2 separate regions of the Homo sapiens genome follow, and region 2 is linked to region 1. Evidence: fine-mapped expression QTL. Tissue or cell type: nasal epithelium. Region 1 holds a variant in brackets; the other region holds the start of a gene. All regions are shown on one strand. Distances are from middle to middle. Region 1 overlaps FBXO2 (F-box protein 2). Region 2 holds the start of DRAXIN (dorsal inhibitory axon guidance protein).

Region 1 (2,894 bases):
GAAGTACTTCGCCTCCTCCTTTGAGTAAGGAGAAGGGGGTGGAGGAGGTGGGAAGGGGGGAGCGTTCGCTCTGTCCTAACTCCAGTTCTCCCAGGTGGTGTCGCAAAGCACAGGTCATTGACCTGCAGGCTGAGGGCTACTGGGAGGAGCTGCTGGACACGACTCAGCCGGCCATCGTGGTGAAGGACTGGTGAGAGGGTCCTGGGGTGGCATGGGGCTGGGAGGAGCGGGGTAAGGCAGAGGGGAGAGCCAGCTGGGGAACCCCCCGCCTGGGGGTGCTGCCTCCCCACTGCAGGGGTTGAGGCCACGTGGGCCACGGGTCTGCAAAGGTTGACAACTTCCGTGTTTGCAGGAGAACCTGGAAACCCACCTCCCCTCCTGAGTTTTAAATGTTGGCAAATATATGCACATATATATGTTTGTATATATGTAATGTATATATTTCAAAATCAGTCTGCGGTCCAAACCAAAGGCCACTCTGTGGACTGGCTTTGGCCCCAAGCTGGGGTCTGGCCAACTTGGAATGTAGTCCTCGTGTTTCGCTCGTGGGCTGTCACTTTCTCTTGCTGGCCTCGTTTCCCTTATCTGTAAACTGGGAACACTGGCAGTGCTGGCTGACAGGGATGTTGGGCGCACAGGAGGACTTTTGTGGAAATCCCCATCCCCAGGACGTGTTCAGCAGGGCTGAGGCCATGCCCCCACCCCACCTCCCGCCCCCCACCTCGCTCCCTCCCTCTGAGCAGGTACTCGGGCCGCAGCGACGCTGGTTGCCTCTACGAGCTCACCGTTAAGCTACTGTCCGAGCACGAGAACGTGCTGGCTGAGTTCAGCAGCGGGCAGGTGGCAGTGCCCCAAGACAGTGACGGCGGGGGCTGGATGGAGGTGAGCCTGGGGGACCCAGGGCGGAGGGGTGGGGCACGGACATGAGGGGCGTGGCTCGAGGAGACCCCGCCCACAGCGCTCCTGGGCTGGG[G/C]TGGGCTGGGCTGGGCTGGGCTGAGATAGTCACCGGGTGGTGGAGAGAGTTCTGAATACCGCGGAGAAACCGAGTGGGGGAGCTGCAGGTCGGTCGGTGTACCGGGGTGGGGCGGCAGGAGAGGCCTCAGGACCTCCGAGGCTGACTCTTGTTACCTCCACCCCCAGATCTCCCACACCTTCACCGACTACGGGCCGGGCGTCCGCTTCGTCCGCTTCGAGCACGGGGGGCAGGACTCCGTCTACTGGAAGGGCTGGTTCGGGGCCCGGGTGACCAACAGCAGCGTGTGGGTAGAACCCTGAGCGACCCTGCCTCCACTCTCCCCCAGCTGCCTGGAGGGGCAAAGGTCGAGGGTAGATAGGCCTTAACTTAGTCCATAGCGTCCTCACCTTCCCCAAGCCACACATCCTCCTCCCATCCCTTGCTCCGATCCCAGCCCCTGAGCAGGGAGAGAGAAGTTTTGTTGGCATAGGTTTGCTTAGGTAGCCGGCTTCTAGAATGTAGATCCGTGAGGGCGTGAGCTTGGACTGGACCCACTGCTGATTCCCTGCACCTAGCACAGTGCTTGCCACAAAGTGGGCTCTCAATAAATATTATTTGTCCAAGGAAGGAATGAATGAAAAAATGGATAAACACTGCTCCCTTCCCATCCTTTTCTGTCTCCTGAGGGCCCCCGGCATAGCCTGGAAAAATACTTGGTAGGGCTCCAGCTGCTCTGGTTTCCAGCGGACCTTGGGCCAGTATGGAGTCAGCTGGGCCCGGCCTTGCCAGGGAGGACAAAGCTGGGATTGTGAGACCAAGGAAGGTTGAGCTGAGCCTGGCGCCTGACCGACACCCAAGCTGCCCAGAGGCCAGAATAGGGCATGTTGGCGGGGGGGCTGCCCTCCAGGCCTCTCTTGGTCCAGTGAGTATCCTAAGCCTTGCTATGACCCCCCATCCTTTACTAAAGGCAGAGTGGGGTTGGGGGTGTACCAGTTCTCAGGGCCCGGGTGACCAATAGCAGCATGTGGGTAGAGCCCTGAGCGGCCCTGCTTCCACCCTCCCCCAGCTGCTTGGAAGGGTAGAGGCTGGGAGTAGATAGGCCTTAACTTAGTCCATAGCGTCCTCACCTTCCCCAAACCTCCACAGCCCTTCATCAAGCTGGGCCCCTAGGGCAAGGTGTCAGTTCCTTTGTCTGATTGGCAACTGGGGTGGGTGTGGACTGTGCTAGGGTCTAGGGTACCAGTTCTCTTGGGCCCAGGGATGGAGGTGAGGGGCCTGGGGTAGGGGATGGGAGGTGGGGATGGGGAAGCACAAAAAGGATTGGTTTGGGGTTTCTCTTAGTTCGTGCCCACCCCCTGGAGTCATTAGCATCTGGTCTCATTGGCCCTTTTCCAAACCTGGCCCAGAGGTTGGCCCAGGCTTTGGCCTGGGGGAGGGGAGGTGGGGAGGGTCTTGTGCCAGACTCTGTGCTCCGGCACGCTCCTTCCGGCCGACCCAGCCCCTTCCAAAGACTGTCAGCTGCTGGTCCTAGGGGTGGGCATTTGAAGGGCCTGGAACCCTCTGCCCTCCTCTCCTGAAATGGAGACCAGTAAAATCACCGAGAGTCTCCAGCTTTGCCTCGGTTCTGAACCCTGATGCTACCTGCTGTTCTGGTGGGATTGCAGGGTTCAAGCTGGGGCCTGCCTGCAATTGTTTATTCATTCACTAGTTCATTTATTTACAATTCCCAGAGCCCCAACCCCAGGCCAGGTCATGTGTGGGGGCCCTGAAGTTACGGTGGGGAATAAGAGACTCCTTCCCAGGAAGAATCAGCAGCCTGGCCACATGAAGGGTGGGACCCAAGGGGAGGGGGAGCCAGTGTCCTGGGCCCTCCAGTGCAGTGGTGGAGATGCAGCCCCTGCTCTGGGGGCATCCTCAGTCTGACAAGGGAGACAAAACC
Region 2 (2,894 bases), 43 kb before region 1:
CCTTGACTTTGAGATCCATTTCTGTGGAGCCCCCTGTCCCCACCCCATCCCAGGTCTGTAGACTCCCCTCCCCTCCCCTCCCTTCCTCCACAGGGTGTGTGAACCAGCACCAAGCGGCACCCCACAATTTCCACACACATCCCTATAGGTAGGGACTAGCACCATCCCTGTTTTGTGACAGGAACACTGAGGCTCAGAGAGGTGCATTCCTTTGTCCGAGATCACTCCCAGAGCCCCAGTGTACCCGACTCCAGATGCATAGTACTGAACCGGTTCCAGACACCAGTGTGTCACTGGGCTGGGAGGTGGGCAGCGTGGAGGGAGCATATAGGGCAGGGGAGACCACCGGGCGGAGAGGATGGCCCAGGGAGCACCCAGCTGAGGAAAGCAAGAAAGACTTGGCGGGAAACCCCAGCCCTCTCTCATCTCATACCCCGGCCCCGAAGGCGGCTGAGACCCTTGACGAGCGGACGGAGAAAAGCCAAAAGCCGGCGGTGGGGAGCAGGAGGGACAGAGCGGGAGACCACAGGCGAAAGACCAGCGCCGTCGGGGGAGCCAGGCTGAGTACCTTCCTGGGCACAGATGGGACGGCGCGGGGCCACCGGCGGTGCTGGTTCCGGGCGCACTCAGCGACCCCGGCCACACACCCCAGCCTCCTGGGCGGCCTCGAAAGGGGCTGGAGGGCACGCCCGCCAGCTCTGCCCGGGGCTCAGGGAGTCTTCGAAGACTTCTTCCAACGGTGGCGGACTGGGGCCCCCTGCCTGAGAGACCACCCGGAGACTCAGAGACAGAGAGACAAAGGGAGACTGGGTCAGGGAGAGAGAAGGCTAGTGCCGAGGAGAGTAGGTGCGAGCCGGGACCCCAGAGGGCGGCGAGGGCGCGCGCGAGGCCGAGTGTCAGAGCGTGGAAAAGTGGGCGTCCAGCGGTAGGTGGACGGATGGGGAGCCCGGGAGCAGAGCCAGGGTCCGTGGGCAGACGCGGCGAGGAGAGGAGGCGGCGGAAGGACTGGCGGATAGACGGGTCCGAGGGCTGGGAAGGAGGCAGCATCCTCACTTCCAGCCTCGGGACCCCGCGCACCCCGCCCCTGGGCGCGCCAGGTAGCCCACCTTTGTCCGGGCTCGCAGCCAGGTGGGGCGGGAGGGGCGGAGCCAGGGGCGGGCCGAGGCCGTGCCTTACCTGTCCGGCCGGCGGGTAGGGGGAGGAGGGGCTCGGGGCCGAGCGCCCGCGGGAGCCGAGCGCAGCCGAGGGCGAGCCGCGGAACGGGGCCGGCGTGGAGAGGTGCGCGGGCAGCCGGAGGATGTGCCCGGGCTGAGCGGGACTGGAAGGAAGGGGGAGTGGGCGGGCAGGAGGGAAGGGGGCGGGAGCGCGGGGAGGGGACAGAGGAGGGGCGGCGGGTGGCGGGCTCGACTGCCCCCAGCCGAGGGGCAGCCCCGGGGCCGGGCCCGGCGCGCACCCGGCCAGCGCGCCCTCGCCAGCTGCGCTCTGAGTTCTGGGCCAGCTCCCCAGAGGCCTAGGCGCCGCCGCCGCGAGGGCGCGGGGCAGACAAAGGAGGCAGACAAAGGCGGGCGCAGCCCAGCAGCCGTGCGGGCACCGGGCGAGGCAGGCCCACTCCTCCCGGTGCGTAAGAGCCGCCTCGGCGCGGCCCAGGGCGCGTGGGACGGGAGGGGCTCCGGCAGTTGTGGCGCCTCTGGAGCGGCCCCGCGCAGGGCGGGCGACAAAGGGCCGCGGCGGGCGGTCCTCGGTGGACCCCAACAATGGAGCGAGGCTGCGCGCTCAGCTGCGGCCGCGTCTGTCAGGGCAGGGGCCCGGGGCCACAAAAGGATTATTCCGCCTAGACTGTCAAAAGGGACGGAAGAAATGCCCAGGGCGGGGGAGGCGGGACGGGGAACGGCGGGGCCTTTGTAGCCGCAGAAAGTGCGCAGAGTGGGCAGGCGGGGTTCTCCGAGAGGTCGCTCCTGGATGTAGGGGTACAAAGGGTCTTCAAAGTGCTACCAGCTCACCTGGGGCGCTGACGGCGCACCTGTGCCCTCTTTCCCGGTAGGGAAGGGAGAAAGACAACCGCCCCAATACACACACACACAAACACACACACACACACACTCACACGCGGCGCGGCTCTCGCCACGCCCCGTCCAAAGCCGGCCTGAAGCTTCTCAGACCGGCCCAACCCGGACAAAGCCAGCGCTGGGGCCGGCTCATCCATCACCGCGCGGGGCGCCGTGTCCTGACGACCCTGGGAGTCTGAGAATGCTGGGTTATGGGTCCCGTGCCTCCCATAACTCACGACGGGGTCGGTGGGGCCACGGACGCTGCAAAGATCAAAGAGCGATGGGGCCGGACTCCCATATGTGGGAAGCAGCGCTCCCACCTGGCGCCCTGAGCTCGCCAGGTGGCTTCCATTTCGACTGTTTTCTTTCTCCAGCGTGTGGCAAATTATGACTTTGAGGTTTTAGAACACAGTTCTGCCGTCAGGCTAAATGTCTGTGTTCCTCTTCTGATGCCGTCCCCTATGACCTCGAGCAAGTCGCCTGACCTCTGAGCTCATGATTATACCTAAATTTCAGTGTTCTAGGCGTGAATGCAGTGCCCTGTGTAAGGAGATAACGTTTCTAAGGTCTGGCCCATAGGAAATGCTCCTGTAAAATTAGCTGCCATTGTTACCGTGATATTATTAGCTTGGTGGGCACCAGGATGGATTGATGAGAACACTGAACTGTTTATTCACTGAAAGGTTTGAGTCATCCATCCCATAAATACCTATTGAACACCTACTATGTGCCGGCACCGGAGGTACAGTAGTAAACAACATGGACAAGAATCCCTGCCCCCATGGAGCTCAGATTCTAGTGAAGGAGACAGAAGATAAGTGAACAAATAAATATAAATGATGTCAG

What was found. PIP is the estimated chance that this variant, and not a neighbour inherited with it, causes the effect.
Region 2: DRAXIN starts here. The variant in region 1 is the best candidate, but not a certain one, in a credible set for the expression of DRAXIN in nasal epithelium (TOPMed, PIP 0.55).

Annotation. Positions count from the first base shown.
Region 1 is chr1:11,647,075-11,649,968 of GRCh38, reverse strand. FBXO2 (F-box protein 2) reads left to right here. Exons shown (of 6, transcript NM_012168.6): 3 at 1-24; 4 at 95-190; 5 at 744-882; 6 at 1,141-1,582. The coding sequence ends at 1,275. Among named protein-coding and RNA genes, the nearest start is that of FBXO2, 5.9 kb to the left of the region's middle. RefSeq lists an enhancer at 1-237. The variant G/C (reference allele first, on the strand shown) is at 974.
Region 2 is chr1:11,690,136-11,693,029 of GRCh38, reverse strand. It overlaps DRAXIN (dorsal inhibitory axon guidance protein), which reads right to left and starts at 1,320. Exons shown (of 7, transcript NM_198545.4): 1 at 1,177-1,320. It also overlaps a transcript of MAD2L2 not described here. RefSeq lists enhancers at 2,005-2,512, 2,513-2,894.